Regions from separate parts of the Homo sapiens genome. Here region 2 is linked to region 1. Evidence: fine-mapped expression QTL. A gene starts in region 1. The other region holds a variant in brackets. All regions are shown on one strand. Distances are from middle to middle. Region 1 holds the start of CPD (carboxypeptidase D). Region 2 has its middle 83 kb from the start of GOSR1.

Region 1 (5,371 bases):
TACCATATATGATCACCTACTTTCCCTTTTGATTAATGAGAGTTACATATTTGAAGAACAGATATGATTAGGGTAGTCCACAGCCACAGACCAAAATGACTCTGTATAGCCTCAAGGCGACTTGCACCAAGAAAAAGCTTATTTTCATATTTGGTCACAGCACAACTAATACTGAAAAGAAAAATCCAGGCACAGAATTTACATCCCTGCAAGGATCACAGCATTTTAAAGGTGCAAGGACAGAGCATTTTAAACATTTAAGCAATGCAAACGGTGCATTTGTTGTATCATCTCCAAAAAGCCCTGGCCATCACAGCTCTGTCAATAAGTGTATGTCAAAGTCATATTTCTTACGCAGATGTTCAGAGGTGATGACACGATCGTATTTAAAAGAAAAAAAAATCCTCCCAGAAAGTCTATGTGAAATTATATATCTACAAGAGAGCTTATCAAGAGGAGTAAAGTAAAAGATAGAAGACGAAAAGACTCAGGAACTGTCCTAACACTCAAGAATTTTCTAGATCTTCTATATATGACTGAAATCTTGTAGAAGAAATGATTCCAAGTCCCGCAGGGAAACTTCTTTATCTTAGCAGTCCCTCAGAAATCTTCTTTTAATCCAGATGGAATGATCAGTTATTGCTTCAAAAGCCTTATGAAGATACAAAAATGGGGAAAAGCTGATGCTAGAAAAGGGGAAGAGATGCCTGCTCACTTCAGACACTATGCCATCTGGAGTGAGTTCCCTCTTATTTTATTCCTCTCCTTTTTGCTGAAAATCCTGCCCATCTCTGGAGATAGCTCAAGCTCTACCTCTTCCACAGAGATGGTCCGTGTTATTGCAGCCCACACACATCTTGCCAGTGGGAACAATTCCTGTAAAGTTTAACTGGGTACACCAACATACCTCATAAATATTTATAACATTCTCTTGTTTTATACTAATTTCTTGAGGTCCTCCTTCTTCTACTTTGTAATTTTTTAAACCTCATGCAATGCTTAATAACACTTAAAGTGTGTATTAGAAGTGTGACCATTAGCCATTCTGCCCAGGCTAATAAGGTGCACAAATGACATCACAAACCCTTCAGAGTCTAAAATGAAGCGGCTCACAGATCTGTGCAAGTTCTCCAGCTAAGTCCATATCTTCTTAAGCTGAGTCAGAGGTAAAAATTGGAGAAAAATCAGCTTCTGTCAAATAGGCAAGGGGAAGATCCTGGGAATATCATCTGCCATTTTTGGGCTCCAGTGTCCCTCCGTGGCTAAGAGGACTATCGGGAATCAGATTGCCTAATTCTAAGTCCCAGCCACACTCCTATGTAAATCAGTTAACCAATCTGACCCTCAATTTCCCCGTATGCAAAACTGATGGTGTCTATGACATCAGGTTGTGGCCAAAATAAAGTGAGATACTGCAGTCACAGAAAAAATTAGCACAGCGCCTATAACATTAGGCACTTTTGATATAAGATAACAACATTGACAGCTTATCTATAAAATGTGTGAGCTGACCTAGGTTATCCTTAAGATCTCTTCTCGCTCATATTCTATGCCCCTGTAAGAATAGGGACCAGAAATGTCAGAAAGGAGTGTCCCCTCCAGCCATCCCTTGAACAAATGACAGCCTCTAGGAGGCAATTCTTTGATGATTAGCAGGACGGGAGGCTACGCGGCCTGGGCCCTGTCCCCGTTACAGGGTGTCTCCCTTCACCTTCACCACCGCCACCCCTTATGCCAGCATTGTCTGAGCGCCTACTGGGTGCCGGAACCAGCCTCGGCCCTTGGAGGCTCACACGGACGGGGAGGGGGCAGGCAACACTCACTTGTTCCTGCGGATCCACTCGATGAGGGCGCGCACCTCGGGCACCTCGTCCAGGGCGGGGGGTTCGCCGGTGCTAAACTGGTCGGGAAAGCTTCGGTTGAGGTCGCGGCCGCGACTATTGTCGCGGCCGCTGGCCCCGGACGGGCCGCCGTCGCCGAAGCCACAGTCGCCCTCGCGGGCACGCTCGAAGCCATCGGGGTTGAGGCTGGGCAGCAGGTACACGTCGGTGGTGTTGAGCAGGCGGACCAGGCGCGGGTCCCCGCGGCGGTAGCCGGCCGCCAGCTCGCGGGCCAAGTAGATCAACACCTGGCGCGACACGGTCTCGTCGCCATGCATGTTGCCCACCAGCTTCACCTGGGGCCGGCCGGGCAGCAGCGGCCCCGCAGCGTCGGGCCCGGCAGCGTCAGGCCCCGCGTCGCCCTCAGGGATTAGCGACCCCAGGCCGGCGGTGAGGCGAAGCACCCACAGCGGCCGGCCTTCCACCGAGCGGCCGATGCTAAAGAGGCGGGCCAGGCCGGGGAGGCCCGCGGCCGCCGCCTCCCTCAGCGCCGACTCCAACTCCTCTTCGTGGTAGTAGCGGTCGAACTGGCCCTCGGCCGCCTCGGCGCCCGCGCTCGTAGTTGTGGTAGTCGCCTCCGCCTTCTTGATGTGAGCCGCCCGGGCCGAGCTCCCCAGCAGCAGCAGGCACATGAGCAACAGGAGCCGCCCTAGCCGCCAAGGCGGCCGCTCGTCCCGGCCGCTCGCCATCTTCCAGCAGCGCCGCTAACCCCGGCTCCGCTCCCGCGGCTCAGCGCTCCGGGCGGCGGGGGCCCGCCGGATCCCCTCCTCGCCTAGCAACCCCATCCCGCCCTCTGGCCGCAGCCAATCGCGGACGGGCCTGGTGGAGCGTCACCACCAGGGGGCGGGGCTTCCCTTAAAGCAGCCGATTCCCTCTGGGCGGGCCTGCCCTCCTCCCGTCCGGGACGAGTTTGGTCACTCTCTTCCTTCGCCAAGGTTCTTCTTCTCTTCTCCTCCTCCTTGTTTCGTCTTCTGCGTGTGCTCCGCTTCTCGCTTAGTCTCTTCTTTATGGCTTCTCCCCTAAATTATCACCCATTTTTCTCTGAGAACTCCTGCTAGTTCTCTTCCCATCTTTGTTGCTGCCTTTCTCAGCTGCGCTTTAATGCTTAGAACCGAGAATGGAAAGAATCAAAAGGTTCGAAAGAATCATAAGACTAGAAAAAATCAATAGGTTCGAAAGAATCTTCGTTCGGACACTCAAAGCCTTAGCCCAGTCTCCTAGGCGCCTTGTCTCCGCATCCACCCCGCCTCCGCTGGAGCCCCGCTGTCCGCGTGCGGTTGCACGGGACGCCTCGTGGGGAGGAAGGCTCGCACCTCACTAGGCGGTGCATTCATTTTTAGAGTTGCTTTCTGGAAAGGTGTCTCTTTTATGCCTAGCGGAAATGTGCTACGTAGTAGGCTCCCTTTGTGTTAATGTTGTCTATTTCTTAGGCGTCACCCCACGTTGTTTTACTGCAAATAGGTCCCTGTGTGTGCTGGCCTCGACCCTCATTAGGCAGATTTCATTTCACAGCTCACCGGCCCACTTCTCCCACCTCATCGGAGCAAGTTGTATATTTAACTGTGCCCTGGAATGACATATTTTAAAACAGCAGGTTTGACATTTCTGGAAACACTTGCTTGGCATTCCTGAACTCCTCAGTGTCAGCCAAAGATGGCAATTACAGCGTTTCATCAAGTCTAGAGAAGAGGTCTTTTAAATCACCTTTTATAGGCTTTAGTTTCTTTAGCTTGAAGAAACCCAAAACTATCCCTTAATCGAATGCGAAATTCTACCCATCTAACAACATAATCGCAATAACCGGCATTACCTTCTTTCAGAGCCAGCTATTTCAGGGCCCCTTCCCTGAACTATGACTGAACCCTACTTTAATAGAGTTCATTCATTCGTCAAGTATTTATTGAGCAACTTTTATGTCAAAGCTAGATGCTGGGAAACAATTCATTCTTCTGCCCAGTCAAGAGATTCAGTGTAGTTTGTGATAAATGCTACAACAGAGGGGGTACAGGTGAGGGAAATATCTGAACTTGAGGAGGAGGAAAGGAGGAGAGAAACCATGGAGGATGGGAAGGATCCCAGGCAGGAGGAGAAGCAAGCAAAGAAAGCCGCAGGATTTGAGAACAAATGCCTTGTGTTCTGGGAATTGCATGCAGGGTCAGGATTACTGGTGTGAAGGGGCTCACAGGCCAGTCTTCAGGGAGCACATTTGATCTGGAAGGCCATGGAGAACCACAGACGGGTTTTAAGCTAGTTTAGAAAAATTCCTCTGACAGTAACACGGAAAATTGAATGGGAGGCCTAAGACTTGAGGCTGAGAGACCTGGAAGGAAGCTGCAATCCAGGAAGACATGATGAGACTCTGAATGAGGGCAGTGCCAGTGGAGGTGGAAAGAAGGAAATGGATCTGAAAGACCTTCGGAAAGGAAAGTGGACAGGATCTGGAGACAAAGAGGATTGTAGGCTGACTTCAAGTTACAGCCTAAGCAACTTGCAGGTATTCACTGAGGTACAGGCCAGGAGAAAGCACAGGTTTAGGTGAAGATGATTAATTTAGTATTCTGCCATCAGAGCGAGCACCGTCACTCCGGTCCTGTGAATGGCTCTTCTCCATGCCCCATTTGATCTAGTCTACATTATGCACAGCAGCTGCAACTCATCAGAAACAAAGCCACAACTCTGTACAGAGAGACCGCCCACCACCTCCCGGGAGTGCTCAACTATTACACCATGCACTTTTACAGTAATCCAAGTCAAAGAAGCCCCAGAGGACATGTTAACTTCTAATCAAATATTTCCTTTTCTACCACGTTCACTCTCCTTTGAAACCTCTTCCAGCCCCTTCACTCCTGCAGCCTCGCCTAGAGAGGCAGCCTGAAATGTAAATAAACAAGCATGAGGGTGGTGAAATAATATGGGAATGTAACTTGAGCCGGTGTCCTCTCAGAAATCCCCAGGCCTTCCGTGGGCCTCTTTCAGGTCTGCAGCCTTCTTCCTTAGCAGGTACACAGTTGCTTATGGTTATAAGTGAAACCCAAAGCTCTGGACCTCAGTCACTTTTGTGTTTACCTACAGGTTTGTGTTTACCTACAGCTGAATACCTCCAATTGTGTCTGAGAAGTCTTGAACCTTATGACAGGTGTTTCTTTCCTCTTTCCCCAAGGAAAAGGTGTGGCCTTACAAATGGAAGGGACTTGGGAAAGGCTTGAAGGTAAAAAGGCTTCCTGTTCACAGAAGCAGAGTGGCAATGACTTGGATTTTTTTTTTTAATTTTTGTATTTGATACATGATAATTGTACATATTTATGGGATACATTTGATATTTTGATACATGCATACAATATATTATGATCAAACCAGGACATTCTGGATAGCCATCACCTCATTTAGCTCAAAGAGATTTGAAATGTTTCTAGCACCAAGAAATGACAAAGAATTGACGTGGATTTTTTAAAAACAGGGCAAAAGCTTTTAGATGACCAGCCTGATTCAAG
Region 2 (5,371 bases), 180 kb before region 1:
AGAGAAGCTGAAGAGGAAGACCCAGGTAGTAGGGATGGGGTTCCTGGGCACTCCCCTAGTATTGACTGCCCCAGAAGGTGACTCAGGAAGGGACCTGGTACTGGAGCCCACCTGGGGGTGGCAGGTCCCCATGTTTCCTTGTTAGTTTCTTCATAGAGGCCTGAAGATGATTAAGAACAGTGTCATCCACTGACAAATGGAAGAACATTCCATGCTCATTGATAGGAAGAAACAATATTGTGGAAATGGCCATACTGCCCAAGGTAATTTATAGATTCGATGCCATCCCCATCAAGCTACCAATGACTTTCTTCACAGAATTGGAAAAAACTACTTTAAAGTTCATATGGAACCAAAAAAGGGCCCGCATTGCCAAGACAATCCTAAGCCAAAAGAACAAAGCTGGAAGCATCATGCTACCTGACTTCAAACTGTACTGCAAGGCTATAGTAACAAAAACAGCATGGTACTGGTACCAAAACAGAGATATAGACCAATGGAACAGAACGGAGCCCTCAGAAATAATACCACACATCTACAACCATCTGATCTTTGACAAACTTGACAAAAACAAGAAATGGGGAAAGGATTCCCTATTTAAAAAATGGTGCTGGGAAAACTGGCTAGCCATATGTAGAAAGCTGAAACTGGACCCCTTCCTTACACCTTATACAAAAATTAATTCAAGATGGATTAAAGACTTACATGTTAGACCTAAAACCATAAAAACCCTAGAAGAAAACCTAGGCATTACCATTCAGGACATAGGCATGGGCAAGGACTTCATGTCTAAAACACCAAAAGCAATGGCAACAAAAGCCAAAATTGACAAATAGGATCTCATTAAATTAAAGAGCTTCTGCACAGCAAAATAAACTACCATCAGAGTGAACAGGCAACCTACAGAATGGGAGAAAATTTTTGCAATCTACTCATCTGACAAAGGGCTAATATCCAGAATCTACAAAGAACTCAAACAAATTTACAAGAAAAAAACAACCCCATCAACAAGTGGGTGAAGGATATGGACACTTCTCAAAAGAAGACATTTATGCAGCCAAAAGACACATGAAAATATGCTCATCATCACTGCCCATCAGAGAAATGCAAATCAAAACCACAATGAGATACCATCTCACACCAGTTAGGATGGCGATCATTAAAAAGTCAGGAAACAACAGGTGCTGGAGAGGATGTGGAGAAATAGGAACACTTTTACACTGTTGGTGGGACTGTAAACTAGTTCAACCATTGTGGAAGACAGTGTGGCGATTCTTCAAGGATCTAGAACTAGAAATACCATTTGACCCAGACATCCCATTACTGGGTATATACCCAAAGGATTATAAATCACGCTGCTATAAAGACACATGCACACATATGTTTATTGTGGCACTATTCACAATAGCAAAGTCTTGGAACCAACCCAAATGTCCATCAATGATATACTGGATTAAGAAAATGTGGCACATATACAGCCATAAAAATGTGGCACATATACAGCCATAAAAAAGGATGAGTTCATGTCCTTTGTAGGGACATGGCTGAAGCTGGAAACCATCATTCTCAGCAAACTATTGCAAGGACCAAAAAGCAAACACTGCCTGTTCTCACTCATAGGTGGGAATTGAACAATGAGAACACTTGGACACAGGAAGGGGAACATCACACACCAGGGCCTGTCATGGGGTGGGGGGAGGGGGGAGGGATAGCATTAGGAGATATACCTAATGTAAATGACGAGTTAATGGGTGCAGCACACCAACATGGCACATGTATACATATGTAACAAACCTGCACGTTGTGCACATGTACCCTAGAACTTCAAGTATTAAAAAAAAAAAAAAAAAAAGAACAGTGTCATCATCCAGGGCCCAGGTATGGAAGAACTGGTTTTGAAAACGTGCCCACAGGCCAGACCTGGACATCTTCATGTGGCGCTCTAGGGACAAGGTGGGCATCAGGCCAGGAGAGTTCCCTGGGAAGGGTCAGAGCCCACACCCTGTGACCACTTCAGTCTCCCACTGGGCAGTGCCAGATCCTTTTGTGGCCACCCCAGGGGTCCAGATGTGCACAGAAGGCTGTGGCTGGTTGGGGGGGCCTGGGCAGGGAAGTGCTCACCACACTCCTGACTTTCATCTGGGTCATGTGAGGGATGGGCTCGGTGTCACTGTGCCCTGCCCAGCCCACCTGGCCAGACCTCCCCCTTGGCCAGAACAGGATCATGAGGACAGTGTGAGGAAGCTGCCCTTAGGCTAGTCGGGGTCTGACCCCAGTGCTCCCCAGGCCCCACTGGGCACACGTGGACTTACTCCTTTGAACCTTAAAGGCAATGCTTGTTATCAGCATCAACATCTGTTCCCCTTCCAGCAAATACATATCCCACAGGCACGGGGTGAGCCCGAGAGAGATCTGTGGGGAAAGTAGGCATGGGAGGACCTGGCCCTTCCAGGCTGGGGCTGGTGGCTCGAGCTAGCCCATTGGGGCTTCACTGACCTTCCCCATGA[G/A]GGTCACCCGACCCCTCCAGGAGGCTGGGTCAGACAAGGTCTTGCAGCTCCTTATGGGGGGGCACTCATTTCAGTGCAGAGAGGGGCTTGCCCAGGGCTTGAGGCTCCCCTGAGCCCTCCCTAGTTGGGTCCTGGCCCAGTCTGTCCATGAGGCTGGTCCTGAGCCCTGTCCTCTGCACTGGGATGAGCCCTCTTGGGCAGAGGGTCTTGCTTGTGTGTCCTTTGGGGATCTGCCTGAGCCTCCTGTGGACTGGGGTGAGCTGGACCCCCTGGCTGGGGAAGCAGGGCACTGCAGGGCAAGGAGGGTCCCTGAGCCAGGGTCTCCCTGTGCCTCCTTACCCCATCATTCAGCACCCGGAGAAGCCAGCTGAATGAGGAACCCTGTGTGCATAGACCTTCCTTGTCCTGATGGGAGGAACAGAGGTGCTCAGGGCCCCATGGGCTGCCCTAAAAACCTCCCTCTTCCAGGGCCCTCTGAAGACCCTTCCCCGAGTGCAGAACACTGGGCAGTGTCCCAGGCTCCCCGCAACATCTTCCCCTTCCGGCACTCCCGGTGGACACACTGCCCTTAGCCCTTCTCTGTGGGAGCAGGGCCCCCATCCCTGTGCCTCTGTCTCCTCCAGGGCTGGAAAGGAAACCCAACTCCCAGCCCATGGGGAACCCGACATCCCAGGTCAGGCCCTGGCTGGGACTCAGCCTGTCACCAGCCCCATGAGGGGCTGCAGCCCCCGCTGTTCCTCCAGCCCCCCAGGATGCAGGGCCTCTGGGGAAGAGCCGAGGGGACCATAAACTCACCAGATGCCCCATGGTCTTGGGTTGTGATGTGGGTACCACATGCTCCTGATGGTCTTGGAGCCCCTGAACTGTCCCGCCATTTGGGCTGTGGAATCCTGAGAAGCCCCCAGCCCGTCATGAAATCAGAGCCTTCCCCCAAGATGTGGAGCCATCAGCTGGAAGAGCTGGGCAGCTGCAGAGCCCCCCAGACCCCGAGGCCTCCCACCCTCCCATCTGGTGACCCCACCATGTGGCCTTGGCCCTGGGGAGGAGGGGTGGGAACATCCCCTGGAGCCTGGCTGGAGGTGCCCCTGGAGGCCTCCTGGGCCAGGGTGCCGGGAGGGCAAGCCTGACTTTGAGGCCACGACAGGGGGCGGCCAGAACAGGGTGGGTGCTGGGCTTTGTGGTCGTCTCCTGGAAGTGGGGCTGGGCCAAGGGACACGGGATGGGGAGATGCTGCCATCTGGGCTTGGTACCCTTTCGTGGGTACCAAGGGCAGCTGGAGCCTGAGCAACTGAAGGGCAGGAGGACTCTCAGGTTGCGGAGAGCCAGCTGCACAGAATCAGAGCCGGAGGGCGTGGCTCCAGGACACAGAGGGCAGCCACGGGGAGGATGAGATGCCTTCTGCTGATGGGGATGAAAGGCGTCTGACTTGGGCTCTGGGGGGTCAGTTCCGGGTTCCTTTGGGACCGTCAGCAGAGACGTCCTAAAGGCTCCCAACAAGCTGGCGACACAAGGAAGGTGCCTTGGCTGAAAGCCGAGATCACCTGGCCAGGGTGGCCATCCCCGGGTCTGGCTGCGTGAAGCCCCAGGGGCAGCTGTTCACCTACCCTGCAGGAGTGCCTCTCACTGGCCAGCAGCTGCACCAGTGCCCAGAATGTGTCCTCCTCAGGCAGATAAAGGAGGAACAAGGCAGCGATGTGGCTCAGGTCCCTGCAGTAGCCCACCACCTGCAACAGCCAGAGTCACCGTGGAAGTAAGTCACTTGGGAGGGCTGAGGTCACCTGGGAGGACTCATGTCATCGGAGAGGGCAGAGGTGACTGGGAAGGCTTCCTCTGAAGAAGAGACTTCCTCAGGATGCAAATTCATTTCATGACAAGAGCCATATCCATCGGGCACTTCAGCACCTTGTCCAAAATGTCTCCTGATAGCACCATTCTGTGTGTGATGCTGCCAAGCTCCCGGGCTTTGGGGCAGCCCCAGGAGGAGGGGCTTGTTCCGATAAGTGGTGGTCAGGCCCAGGTGACACCAGGAGTCCAGGCCCTGACTCCTCTGTGTCTCAGCTTGACCCCTTGAGACCACCCCCTTGCTGGAGGTTTATGCCAGCGGTGAGCTGGAATCCTACCTCCTATATCCTGGTGGGTCACAAATACTAACTTTAAAAGAAGCAACGACACTCCCACCAGACACCCACTCCTGTGAATATGGAAATACGGCCTGGGAACCTCACTGCCAGGAATACTCACTGGGTTATACTTCGAATATGCCAGGAGGATGTAGAATAGTTCCTGCTGCCTGGGAAACAGAGAAAGGGGGCTTTGGTTTGTGTTGTGCAGATGCTGTTAGTTTCACTTTGTCTACAAACCCTAACAACAAATCCCATTTCAGGTTCAGATGATTCACCAGATAAGCAGTGAGCTCTTCAGGGACTTTGACTGTTGAAGAAATGTTTCAGTAAAATCCACATCTGTGACATGCAAATAGCCCAGTTGTACAGTGACTTGCCTGATCCTTTTCACTCTGAATGATCTTTTTTTTTTCAGTTTGCACACACGCCAATTCAGTCTTTGGGTGTACAGGTCCTCCATGGTTCTAAACCAATGTGCAGAGTCTCCCGGCTACCACTCCAGCCCCTCCTGGAGCGACTCCTTCATCCTCCAAGTCTCCAGGGTGGCCCCTATGCACCCAGCCTCTCCCCGATCCGTCAGCCCCTGGCCACCCAGACTGCTTCTCAGTCCCTATGGTTTGGCCTTTTCCACAATGGCCTAAGAATGGGAATCCTACTTTGGTAGCTTATTGGGTCTGGCTTCTTTCCCTTAGCAAAATGCACCTAGGATCCACCCACGTTCATGCGGGCATCACTGGCTCG

Evidence for each region. PIP is the estimated chance that this variant, and not a neighbour inherited with it, causes the effect.
Region 2: its variant is the best candidate, but not a certain one, in a credible set for the expression of CPD in whole blood (TOPMed, PIP 0.76).

The regions. Positions count from the first base shown.
Region 1 is chr17:30,376,179-30,381,549 of GRCh38, reverse strand. It overlaps CPD (carboxypeptidase D), which reads right to left and starts at 2,623. Exons shown (of 21, transcript NM_001304.5): 1 at 1,824-2,623. The coding sequence starts at 2,569. RefSeq lists silencers at 2,148-2,277, 2,578-2,817 and enhancers at 1,795-2,722, 2,868-3,037, 4,308-4,357, 4,608-4,897.
Region 2 is chr17:30,557,658-30,563,028 of GRCh38, reverse strand. It overlaps the pseudogene LOC100420311 and the pseudogene TBC1D29P. Among named protein-coding and RNA genes, the nearest start is that of GOSR1, 83 kb to the right of the region's middle. The variant G/A (reference allele first, on the strand shown) is at 2,508.